Linked DNA regions of Homo sapiens: regions 1 and 2 are each reported to be linked to region 3. The links are microRNA targets in miRTarBase. Many come from high-throughput screens and were not tested one by one. Region 3 holds a microRNA gene; each other region holds the end of a gene's coding sequence.
What was found. Region 3 holds the annotated microRNA hsa-miR-3198 (GUGGAGUCCUGGGGAAUGGAGA, at 2,168-2,189, opposite strand). A microRNA usually pairs through its seed, bases 2 to 8, with sites in the 3' UTR of a target mRNA and lowers its output. Matches are read on the target gene's strand: a 7mer-m8 pairs with bases 2 to 8, a 7mer-A1 pairs with bases 2 to 7 and ends in A, and an 8mer does both.

Region 1 (4,000 bases), not on the chromosome of region 3:
GGAAATGAAATAATGCAAGGTAAGGACTAGCACCGTCCTGGCACATGGCATAAAAACCTGGTAAATGTGAGCTCTTGAAATGGAATCTGTACCAGAATCTCTTTCATCTTCTAGGACTTCATGTTATACTTGGTTCTGCTTTTCTGTCATTTTTTTCTCTAGATTAGAGCAGCTACCGTTGTTGAGCTCCCTGAAGAGTTAGAGGCATTGCTTTAATAGAGTCTGTGTCAGAAGGCTTAGTGGCTATGGGTCTAGCTGATATTTTCCTTTTTCTCTGCCCCCTTCCTCTTCTCTCCATCATCTGCCATCTCCTATCCTCATATTCCACCAACTCTGGTCCCCTCCTCACTCCCCTTCAATTTGGATCTGGCACCATATGTTTACGGATCAAGATAATTTGTTGCCATGGAGTTTGATTGCCTATTGCCAACTTAGGCCCCATCTATGCAGCTGAATTTCTCAGCTCAAACCAAGCCCATGCTTGTGATGGGTCTCTAAGATTTTGGGTAGTATCCTGGATATCAAAATGTCTATATCTGTATGATGTACTTCTCCTGCCAGAGGCTTGAAAGTAAAGAAATTGGGCTATATTTGCCTAATTAAGTTGTGGGTGGACAATCCTTATGTCTGTCTCTTGGTCTCTCTTGGCCACCTAACATCTCAGTTTTCTTAAACTGTCCCAGTTTACTCTGTTGTTCTAAAGAAACCATTAACAACATCCCCTTTCTCTCTCAACAGTGTTCTGTTTTGGAAGATATATTGTAAGGTCACCCTGTCTTTTGGGATTGGCATATATTTAAGCCTCTTTTCAAATATGGAAAAGATGGTGGGTTACCAGGCAAAAGTTTTTCAGCACAGTACAATAACAAGAACCGTGAGAAGGAAGGTCAGAGTCAAGTTTCAGAAACAGTGCTTCAGAAGGTTTTCTTTCTGTAGTGCAAACAGGAATGTGTTTTTATCATAGCAAGTAGTGCTTTGGAAGACTTGGAAGAGGCTTGCCGCACAATTGACATTTTATGTGGTCAACCCTTATTCAATGGAAAAGTATAAGCTAAAAATATTCAAGGGAAACACACACACACACACACACACACACTCCACATGTTGTTGATGCTTTTGAAACCTCTCCTCTTCTTTTTCTCACCTCACTTTGTGTGACTGGGTGGAATGCATCTTCCACAAAGTGGTGTGAATGAGAAATCTAATAATACTCAGAGCTCAAAGGAGCCGTCACAGCTTGTTCATCCTAAGATTGTGCAGCCATGTTCAAATACAATAGAAAGAAAGCATCCTAGGAGCTGAGAGGGGAAACTCTTAGCTTTGTTGGCGTCAACTATCTCTATCTGAACAGAAGAGACGCAAGCTGGTGTAAGTGCCACATGCTGTCAAGCCGTGACAGTGACATGGGACCACAATGGATAAAAAGAGACAATGAGCACATGTGGCTGCAAAGGCTGGACTGCATGTGGAATAATGCCTTCATCTACAGCAGCTGCAGCTACGGTGGAAATTCAGGGCTCCTCAGGCAGGCCTGAGGAACTAGGTTGACAAGTTCTCCCCTACTTGAGAGAGGAATATACATTCTTGTCATTACTCATGGTATCCACCATGTGCTAATCAACTCTTTCCCTTCCGCATTCTAAGAAGGGACACAGGACCATAAGAAAGGCAATGCAAAATGCTGCCACCTGGTACATGGCTGAAAGGGAAAGGATAATACAAACGCAGAAGGAAAGGATAATACAAACGCAGAAGGGAGAGAAAGGCCAAGAAAACAATGGGTAGTTAATGTTTCTGCTTTATCTAGCAACAGCCAAGCCAGGTTTCCTAGGAAGTTGTGAACCTGCTGACTCTGAATGATGGTGTGATTTATAGTCAGCTCCAGGTTGTCTGTCTTTGACATTCCATTCACTCACATATTTGCATATTCAGAAGCTGTACGAGCACAAAAATATTAATATGAAATCCAATATACGTTACAGTAGAATGACATGTAATTTATTCATATAACTGACAATTAGGCAGTACTCAAAATTCATTTAAATAAGCAAGTGGTTACACAAACATCTAATAATACTAAAATTGATAGTCAGAAGGTATAAAATACCATGGGTATGAAATGCCATGGTAAATACTATTCAACAGACTACAATCATAATTCCAAACTAAATCATGGTTTTTAAAATGATTTTTAGCAGTTCTGGAACAATTTGACTTTTCCCTTTCTAAGCAACTTACTTCTTCCACTGATACAAGACAAGGTCGTTATTTTCAAGAAATATCGCAGAGTGACTTAGCTTAGGTTGCTCTCTTGAAACACATTTTCTTGCAAATTGTTTTTTAATATTGCCCCTTGACATAGAAAACAAACTAGTCAGCACTTAGTTCCCCAAGCAAATATGCTTGGATCAGAACAGTGCCAGGGTGTAACCCAGTTCCGCAAGAGGCAGGCAGTGAAAAACCTTTTGCAGCTTTTGAAATATGCTTATTTCTTTTCTGAGGCTTCAAGCATCATACACTTAGGCATCCAAGCCAATGAAGTTATGGGAATAAAATAGTTTGATATACAGATGACTATGACACAATTGCAACTGGGGTGAGGGGAAGTTACAATATAATTTTGCAGTACTTCAAACAAAAACAGCTCCTACCTAAAGTTACTTCTTGTAAGCCTCATGAAGCATAGCTATGTTTGCAGGAACAGTTTGGCTTATCATGTGTCTGTCTGTACTATTTTATTTATTTATTTATTTATTTATTTATTTATTTATTTATTTATTTATTTATTTTTGAGATGGAGTCTTGCTCTGTCGCCAGGCTGGAGTGCAGTGGTATGATCTCGGCTCACTGTAACCTCCACCTCCCGGGTTCAAGCGATTCTCCTGCCTCAGCCTCCCGAGTAGCTGGGATTACAGGCACCCACCACCACGCCCAGCTAATTTTTGTTATTTTTAGTAGAGACGGGGTTTCACCATGTTGGCCAGGATGGTCTCGATCTCTTGACCTCGTGATCCGCCCGCCTCAGCTCCCCAAAGTGCTGGGATTACAGGTGTGAGCCACTGCGCCCGGCCCTGTTTTGTATTATTTTAAAGTCTTATACTTTATCAGAATGAGGTCCAAGCATGAACCTGGCTTGAAGAGCTAGCAGCAGTAGTCATGAAACATTTCAATAAATTAAAAGGCTTTCACAGAATGAGATTCAGCTAAACCTCTTACATACAAAATACAGCTAGAGAAATACAATTCTTTAATGCTGAATTATGAGGGAGAGGAAAAAAAGTCTAAAAAAATAGAAAACTCTCTCCATACCTGGGTATCAAGGCAAGATGTAACACTGCATAATGCCACAATATGAGCAGTCACTGGATGACAGATACTCCAGAAACAGTGGTCTCTGGGGATCTCGGAATTATGACCAAGAGATGAAAACACTGTACCAAAAGGCATGCATACAATCACTGTGTGCATTCAATGCGTGAGCTGCGACCTAAGCAGAGATCTAACAAGACAATGAGGCAGTGTTCCAGGGTATCCATTAAAACCGGCGTGGGCAACTACATGTTGATTAAACCTTCCGAGGCAGCAAAATGTGGGCACAGCGCCATGTCTGGGTTCTGCAGCTGTTTGATGATCCTCTTGCGGAATTTCTCCCTCACACGATTAAATTCCATTATGTCCATGGGGTCCTCTTCGATCCAAAACTTATGAAATTCATGCATCAAATAGCCTGTTGGAGACAATACAATGATAAGAATGCAGGAGAAAAAAAAATCCTTAATCACATTCAAAATCATTCTGAATGCTGAGGAAGATGCTGAACCAAGCCACAGCAACCGTGGAGCTCAAAGAAGACCTCAAAATCTAGAAAATACCACTGTTTAAGATTATTCTTTAAAATCAGTGCAGTTGAAGCCTACCAATCTGCAAGCTTTTTGCAATTGGCCCTGGAATCATTCTCACTCTTCCCAAGCAGGAAGACAAATCAGTTCTGCCATCTCTT
Region 2 (4,353 bases), not on the chromosome of region 3:
CCACAAACTGGTGATACATACCTTTAAAATGGCTGTCTGTCCAAGTCAAGGGATGGGGTTGATAGCATCTGTGTCTGTTCCACAACTGCCTTTGAGCTGGCCCTTCAGATGCCTATGAATGAGGGTGCTTAAATGGTGTTAGAGGTTAAGACCAATGGGTAGTCTGTATTCCTGTGGTCATAGCATTAATATTTCAGTGTTGCCCATGCTAATGTGTGAATGTTGGATTTAAAGCTGACGTTCTTAGAGGTGGGGCTCTGCTTTATTTAGCCTAGTGAATCTTAGGATTTTTCATCGGCCTTCAGTCACTAACTCCATGTCTTTATTCTTTGCAGCTGACATCATGTACACAGGCACGCTTGACTGCTGGCGGAAGATTGCTCGTGATGAAGGAGGCAAAGCTTTTTTCAAGGGTGCATGGTCCAATGTTCTCAGAGGCATGGGTGGTGCTTTTGTGCTTGTCTTGTATGATGAAATCAAGAAGTACACATAAGTTATTTCCTAGGATTTTTCCCCCTGTGAACAGGCATGTTGTATTATATAACATATCTTGAGCATTCTTGACAGACTCCTGGCTGTCAGTTTCTCAGTGGCAACTATTTACTGGTTGAAAATGGGAAGCAATAATATTCATCTGACCAGTTTTCTCTTAAAGCCATTTCCATGATGATGATGATGGGACTCAATTGTATTTTTTATTTCAGTCACTCCTGATAAATAACAAATTTGGAGAAATAAAAATATCTAAAATAAATTTTGTCTGCAGTATATTTTCATATAAAAATGCATATTTGAGTGCTACATTCGAATAAATACTACCTTTTTAGTGAATGCTACATTTTTAATAAATGCTACAGTATCTCCGGAGATGAAGAACTGTCTTTTTAAAACCAATTGTCAGCAGTCCGCTTAACAGAATAACTTGGTTGTGCCACCCACAAACATTTCCAACACATTAGCAAAGGAATTCAGGCCCAGTGCATCCAAAAAACATTGTTCCATTGCCTATGGATGATCATAGCTGAATGAGCTTTCTCCAAGAAATACTGTGAACCCACCTTCTCTAGTCCTATGGTTATTAATCATGAGCCATGAGCTGAATTATCCACTTTAAAATGGTTACGTTTGTTGCATGAATATCACCTCATTTAAACTTTTAGAATCAATACCAATTTCATCCAGTTGCCTTCATTTTCACCTGGCTCAAGCCATTTTTTTTTTTTTTTTTTTTTTTTTTTTGAGACAAGAGTCTTGCTCTGTTGCCAGGCTGGAGTGCAATGGTGCAATCTTGGCTCACTGCAGCCTCCGCCTCCTGGGTTCAAGCGATTCTCCTGCTTCAGCCTCCCAAGTAGCTGGGACTACAGGTGTGTACCACCAAGCCTGGCTAATTTTTGTATTTTTAGTAGAGACAGTTTCACCATGTTGGCCAGGATGGTCTAGATCTCTTGACCTCATGATCCACCCACCTCGGCCTCCCAAAGTGCTAGGATTATAGGCGTGAGCCACTGTGCCTGGCCAGCTAGAGCAATTTTTTAAAATTTATTTATTTATTATCTATCTTTTGAGATGGAGTTTCTCTTTTTTTTTTTTTTTTTTTTTTTGAGACAGAGTCTTGCTCTGTTGCCCAGGCTGGAGTGCAGTGGCACGATCTCGGCTCACTGCAACCTCCGCCTCCCAGGTTCACGCCATTCTCCTGCCTCAGCCTCCCGAGTAGCTGGGACTACGGGTGCCCGCCACCACGCCCGGCTAATATTTTTTGTATTTTTAGTAGAGACGGGGTTTCACCGTGTTAGCCAGGATGATCTTGATCTGACGTTGTGATCTGCCTGCCTTGGCCTCCCAAAGTGCTGGGATTACAGGCGTGAGCCACCGTGCCTGGCCGAGATGGAGTTTCTCTCTTTCGCCCAGGCTGGAGTGCAATGACACAATCTTGGCTCACTGCAACCTCCCCCTTCCAGTTTCAAGCGATTCTGCCTCAGCCTTTTGAGTAACTGGGATTACAGGCGCCTCTCACCATGCCGGGCTAATTTTTGTATTTTTAGTAGAGACGGGGTTTCACCATGTTGGCCAGGCTGGTCTCGAACTCCTAACCTCATGATCTGCCCATTTCGGCCTCCCAAAGTACTGAGATTACAGATGTGAGTCACCACGCCTGGCCTCAAGCCATTTTTAATTCCATTCAGAGTAGAGGATTAGAGCTGGCACAGTTACATAGTGCTGAGATTGCAGTGCTGTTAAAGATTATGAAGAGGGCCAGACATTGGCCACGACCTCAAAACTAACCTTACAAAGAGGAAATAGCATCTGCCTTTTGCTTCATGCTAATAAGCCCAGTCAATGGAGGGCATTTATGTTTATTTTCAATAAACCCTTATTTGGAATCCATGTGACAGTGTTTGGACTTTCTGTATCTCTTGATTAGGGCTCAAATCCAGTGGATTTTGCCATGAGATTTGTACTAAGAATGCAGCATTATGTCTGTCAAGCCACAACTTTAAAAATGATAGAACGGGTGCTCCATGTGTACATGTAAAGCTCATTCTTGAGGAATATCCCACACACTGGCATGTATAAGAGCTATTCACAGAGAGGTCTGCATGGCATGGATGAATGCCCAAGGATCCCAGAGTTTATGTTTGTCCTCTGGCCAGGCACCTGAATCGTAGTATAGCTTAGTTATTAAGAATTCTGTTCTGGTATCAAAGAGGCCTGGGCTGAAGTTCTGGACTCTGATGTTCAGTTGTGTTAGGCCAAGTTACTTAATTTTTCTAAACCTTGGTTTTCCTTATCTGTAAAATGAGGCTATTAATAATGCCTGCCTCAGAGGGTTGTTGCAAAGATTAAATAATTTATGCCAAGCATCTACCATAGAACATAATAAGCATTACATAAATGGTGACTGACAGTTCTTAGGAGGCAGATTTCAGGGGCTCTAGAATCAATCAGACATACCTGGATTTTAATCCTGGCTCTGCTGATTACTGTGTGACTTTGGGCAAGTCACTTAATCCCCGGGAGCCTCAGTTTCCTCGTCTGTGAAGTGGGGATATAATAGCGCTTATATATTTCTTTCCTTCCTTTTTTTTTTTTTTTTTTTTTTGACACGGAGTCTCACTCTGTCGCCCATTCAGAGTAGAGGATTAGAGCTGGTACAGTTACATAGTGCTGAGATTGCAGTGCTGTTAAAGACTATGAAATCTTTAACAGCTGGAATGCAGTGGTGCGAGCTCGGCTCACTGCAACCTCCGCCTCCCAGGTTCAAGCAATTCTCCTGCCTCAGCCTCCCAAGTAGCTGGGATTACAGGCATGCACCACCATACCTGGTTAATTTTTGTATTTTTAGTAGAGATGGGTTTTCGTCATGTTAGCCAGGCTGGTCTCAAACTCCTGACCTCAGGTGATCTGCCTGCCTTGGCCTCCCAAAGTGCTGGGATTACAGGCGTGAGCCACCTCTCCTGGACTGCTCATATATTTCTTAGGGGTGTTGTGAGTGAGGGTTAAGCATAAGAAAGCATGTAGAGCCAGAAGTATGGTGCCTGGCATTTAGCAAGCACTCCGATGTGAACTTTCACATAATACGGCACCCAGGTTTGTTGAGTGAAGATTTGCCCAAGTACAGCACTGCTTAAGAATGAATTCAAGCTCACCTTTCTTTTTCTGCAACAGACTAGATATACTATATTGTGTAGCATTTATACAAAATAAACTTCAGGTTAGTTCTTTTTCAGTTGTAGATTTTATTCTTGAAAGGGGATAAGAGGCTCTCCAGTAAGGGCTGCATACACGATGCAAGAGGAGCCAAGCCCCCTTTATGGTTATTACAATAGATGTGGACTCACTGAGCTGGCAGCTATTAAAATAAACCTAGGACCAGGCATTAATGATCAGAAAGCAAGAAGTGGTGCCTCCTGCAATTGGGTAGCTGACATAGATGAGGTGGGGGTTTTTTTTGTTGTTGTTCTTTCTATTCTTGTTCAATGATTTTTGAAATTTAATTTAAAGACAAAGTGGTTTTAATCTCTCCAAGCTGTGCAGGATAGTGCTATAGAATTCATTATGTCCATTACGCTCATGCGAACGTTGATGGTACACAATCTTAGCAACACCCTAATTTATGCCGTTGTTTTGTTACTATTCAATACATAACAGGATCCGTGAAGCCTGATTCCAGGTGAGAGAGCCAGAACACAGGTCAGCTTGTGCACAGCCGTGCTTCCTATTCCAAGGGCCCTCTGCACTCAGTGACTGGAAGCAGCGCGCTACGGGCGCTCCGGACCGCCGGAGAAAGAAACGAGGGGTGTCTTCCCAGAGCGGCAGTTTTCGTGAATGGTAAGTCATTTAAACCGTCATTTT
Region 3 (4,353 bases):
GCCTTGTCAACATGGGGAAACCCTGTCTCTACTAAAAAAAAAAAAAAAAAAAAAAAAAAATTAGGCTGGGCACAGTGGCTCACGCCTGTAATCCTAGCTACTCAGGAGGCTGAGAGAGGAGAATCGCTTGCACCCGGGAGGCGGAGGTTGCAGTGAGTTGAGATCATGCCATTGCACTCCAGCCTACGCAACAAGAGCAAGACTCTGTCTCAAACAAAACAAAACAAAAATTAGCCAGGTGTGGTGGTGGGCGCCTGTAGTCCCAGCTACTCGGGAGGTTGAGGCAGGAGAATCGCTTGAACCTGGGAGGCAGAGGTTGCAGTAAGCCAAGATTACGCCACTGCACTCCAGCCTTGGCAAAAGAGCGAGACTCCATTTCAAAAAAAAAAAAAAAGAAAAACATAGAACTGTGTGCTCAGTGATCCAATGAAGGGGATTCCCACACAGTGATCCTCCATTTTCCCCAGGCTGCCAGTGCTGCACTGATTTCACAAGCTCTGAAGCTCTTTAATGAAGACAAAAGGAGAGGCAAAATTGCCCAGTTCCTGACTTCTCCAGCACACTGAGGCAAGATTCCTGGGAGGAGAGCTATGAGCAATGATGAGGTCATCTGAATGAACGCCATGCAGGCACAGCCCCTCACTGAGGGAAACAAAAACCAAGACATAGTTTAGGAATACAAGCGTGGGTGTCAAAACCCTGGAGTTGTGCTTTCCAGTGGGCCTGAGACAGAGACAAAGTGACATGATGTTTAGAGAGCAAGAAAGAGATCGAAAGGGAAGAGGGCAAGCAGTCTCAGGCTTCCATGGTAGGAAATAAATAATGTCCAGAAGGGTCTGGCTCTGAAGTGGACCAAATGGCTCTCCTGTCCCATGTTTATGAGGTCATGGACCATTAAGCCAGCCAACCTACAGATGTCTTCATAAGACTTTACGAGATTAGACTGGGGAGACCCTATAACTCAGCAAGAAAGGAAAACAAGAGGGGAGAATTGCAGGTAAGAGATGGTAGAAACAAGTGCTCCGCTCCAGAGGCCTCACATATCAGTGGGAGGATATCTGGGTTTGGTGACCCCTTCATCTTCCTCACTTCTCTCTTCTGTGAGTTTCTGCCTATCTCCATTAGATTCAGGGCTACATCAGGCTTATATTATTCGATAATTTCTTGATTATCCACATACTTTCCTCCTCCTAACTTCCAACTGACCTCACACCATGTTCCTGACCTGCAAGCCTTCCATCCTCAGAGAAGTTTCTTTGGTATTTGTGAAGCAAATCAGAAAGATAAAATACAAAGTTTACAAATTCACATATTTTCAAACCTGATTTAGACTGCATTTGCTTGATGTGGTATTCCATAAGTTCTAATAGCCATGAGATGACTCTTCCAGGGATCCCTAGGTTGCTGAAGCCTAATATTTATTCTCTGAACCATTAGGAGCAGAGAAGAGCATGGAAACCAGGAAAGGTACACACTGAACCAGTTAAGGAAATAAGAGTAGGAAACAGGATACGCATTATCTTATTTCCTCAGGCTTGCGCCAACCTGTGGTTATTTGCAGAAAGTCAGAGACCAATAATCCTTAGAAAAGAAGCCCATGTTCTCCAAGTCTTGTTGCTCTTTCAGAAATTGAGCTGACACTCCAGGGCCCAAATTAAAGAAGGGGCATAAGACCCAGATCTTTAAACCACCACTCAGAATCCATATTTGAAAAGCAACCATTTATTAGAACCAATACAAGAGTATGAAAAGGGGGAAAAGAGGAGGGTAGAAGAGGGGGAGAGAATGAGGTCTGCATCAGATGTCAGTTATGGAAACACATAAATGCTTACTTTTTAAACATTTACATTTAAAAGGTGAACATATATATAGACCACTTATACTTTAAAAAAAAAATCAAAAGCAGACATGTTTGGCTGAAATAAAACCAAGAAACACAGCTAAAACTCCCCCATAAACCTAAAAGTCCATGGAGAATTCAATTTCTCATTTCCATTCAGAAATCTGGCTACAAAGTGATTTGTTTGCTATTTGGGACAGTACAGAGTGCTGAAAGAAACCCAGCTCTTGAGTCTCTTAGATCCCATCCTGTAGGAAGTGGTGGGAAAGCCAGCGGACCATGGGCAAGTCAACTCCTGGCTACTTGGCAGGGAGTCAGACTGTGCTCTCTCCATTCCCCAGGACTCCACAGAACCATCTGGTACTGCTAGTGCTGGGTGAACAGTGAGAGCAGAGTCCACAAAACACAGAGAACCAGAATGTGACCGCAAGGAGCCAGGACCTTGTGCTTTTTCATGGATTACAAATCTAGGGCCAAGGAGAGGGAAAGCAGAAAGAGCCCTATTGGGAAGAGGAGCTGGCTGCGCCCCTAAACTGAGATGGAAAGAGTAAGGCTCTTGAGCCCACACCTGGCCAAGTAGAAATAGTGTCCAAAGTTTTCTCAAACCAGAGGGAAAAAAGGTCAAGGTTAGGTTCAGACTGCAGACACTAAGAGATGACAGATGTTGAATACGGTGAATGGGATGAAGCTTTAAGGATCAATGCCCAATTCTGAGTGTTATACACATTTCTAGGAAAAATAATTCCAATGTAGCTTTTGGGGGTGGGGGGTGGAAATAAGGTGGTCACATTTATTCAATCAGCTGGTCCCTATGAGGAAGGAGAGGCCCAGGTACAGATACCACAAAGGGGTACAGTGACCCAGCTGTCCTGGGATTGGTTGGGGAGTGGTAAGCAATGACATAAATCAAAACCATTGAGGGTTGCTTTGATCCTGAGACAGTCTGAGTCTGCTTCAAACCCATGGGGAAAGGAACTTTAATCCCCAACCTGCAGAGAGAAATACGCAGTAGCATCCCTGCCTCACGATTCCCTAATCCAATGCTCTTGAATCTGAAATGGCCTCCCTCTGTGAATGCAAGACACAGAAAATCCCAAGTGCCTTCCCCAACAACATCCTAAGTAAGTCTGGACTAGTAAGATTCCAACATTCATGAAAACACTGTCAACATCTGAACTAGCAGCTTTGATGAGGGGTGGGGGGCAGAAAATTTGCCGAGTCACTAAGTAGTTCCAGTCTTGGAGACAGCTCAGTGAGGACCAAAGCCTGTGTGTCAGGCTTAAACTCTGGCTCAAGACATCCTCCACAGAGGACCCTGAAGTATTCTATTAACTTTGATTTACAATGCCTCACAACAACACCCCTGTGAGGTAGGTCAGTATTATTAACCCCATTTGACAGATGGGGAACTGAGGCATTGAAAGAAGTGACTTGCCCAAGGTCAACCATTATCAATCAGTTGAGGAGGTGGGCACACAGAGTCAGCATCCACTCGATTCTTGTTCCATTTCCCAGAGCATTTTACCTCTCAGAGTGTACTTGGGAGCAGAGGGAAGTTGGCAGGATACACCTCATTCCACAAACTAGATTAATTCAATAACTGAAGGGTATTAACTGAGGGCCTATTATTTATCTAGTATAATGTGAGGAATCTTGGAAAAATGAACTGCTTCTGAAAGTCATGTTATAGATGTTTTGAAAATAAAATTACATCTTTAACATTAAGGACATGAATTATTTTGTAAAGAAATATTCACTTTATCTTAGGAGGTGAAGGACTAAGTCACACTGATTTCTCAGAGTTTTATACTGAGTAACCTGAATTCCTAAAATCCAGAAAGCAAGATCACATTCCAACAGAAACAATGAATAAGAACCTTTTCCCCAGTGGTGGTTCTTGGTAGCGCTCTTATAAAGCTGCAAGTTGGTGGCGTGGGAATCCTAGCACCACAAAACACCCTCTTACTACATCACATCCCTCCCCACAATACCCAGAGGGCTGCATTTTTCCAACCTTTCTGCCTCAGCTCAACTTCAAGAGTTACAGCATCTTCAAAAACACCTCAAGGGTAAGGATACAAATGGTGACCCCTGCTTTTCTATTCAGGGAGAGGGGATGAAAATATTCTCTGTAACTAATCATATAGACTCTTGAATTCTTTCCTCCTGTGAGAGATGTAACTCTTTAACAAAAAAAAGGTAGAAGAAAAAACAGTTATGTCTTTTCTCCCCCTTTGGATTTACTTTGGATTCTGGTAGAAATCATTATGTCTCTTATCCTAAACTGAGGAGGTGAGGGGTGAGGGTGACACGAGACAAACACCAAACTCACCACCAGCCCTCGTTTAGAATCCAATCCTAAAGCTACCGGAAACCAGAACACTGACTTGAGCCTTAAGAGTGTTGTGACATGATTAAACTGTCTTTTCAGGTGTTCTCAAAGAATTTCTAGGCAGAAAGCCTCTCCTTTCTTCCATACCTCTTCACAGCAGCCAGTGTAGGAAGTCCCCACA

Region 1: miRTarBase lists ELMOD1 as a target of hsa-miR-3198. Seed matches in the 3' UTR shown: 7mer-m8 at 2,796-2,802.
Region 2: miRTarBase lists SLC25A5 as a target of hsa-miR-3198. The part of its 3' UTR that is shown has no 7-base or 8-base seed match.

The regions. Positions count from the first base shown.
Region 1 is chr11:107,664,752-107,668,751 of GRCh38, reverse strand. ELMOD1 (ELMO domain containing 1) reads right to left here. Exons shown (of 12, transcript NM_018712.4): 12 at 1,973-3,727. The coding sequence ends at 3,555. Among named protein-coding and RNA genes, the nearest start is that of SLN, 45 kb to the left of the region's middle.
Region 2 is chrX:119,470,566-119,474,918 of GRCh38, forward strand. It overlaps SLC25A5 (solute carrier family 25 member 5), which reads left to right. Exons shown (of 4, transcript NM_001152.5): 4 at 336-831. The coding sequence ends at 493. Among named protein-coding and RNA genes, the nearest start is that of SLC25A5-AS1, 3.6 kb to the left of the region's middle.
Region 3 is chr12:54,229,240-54,233,592 of GRCh38, forward strand. MIR3198-2 (microRNA 3198-2) reads right to left here and starts at 2,237; the gene lies at 2,158-2,237. CBX5 (chromobox 5) reads right to left here. Exons shown (of 5, transcript NM_012117.3): 5 at 1,703-4,353.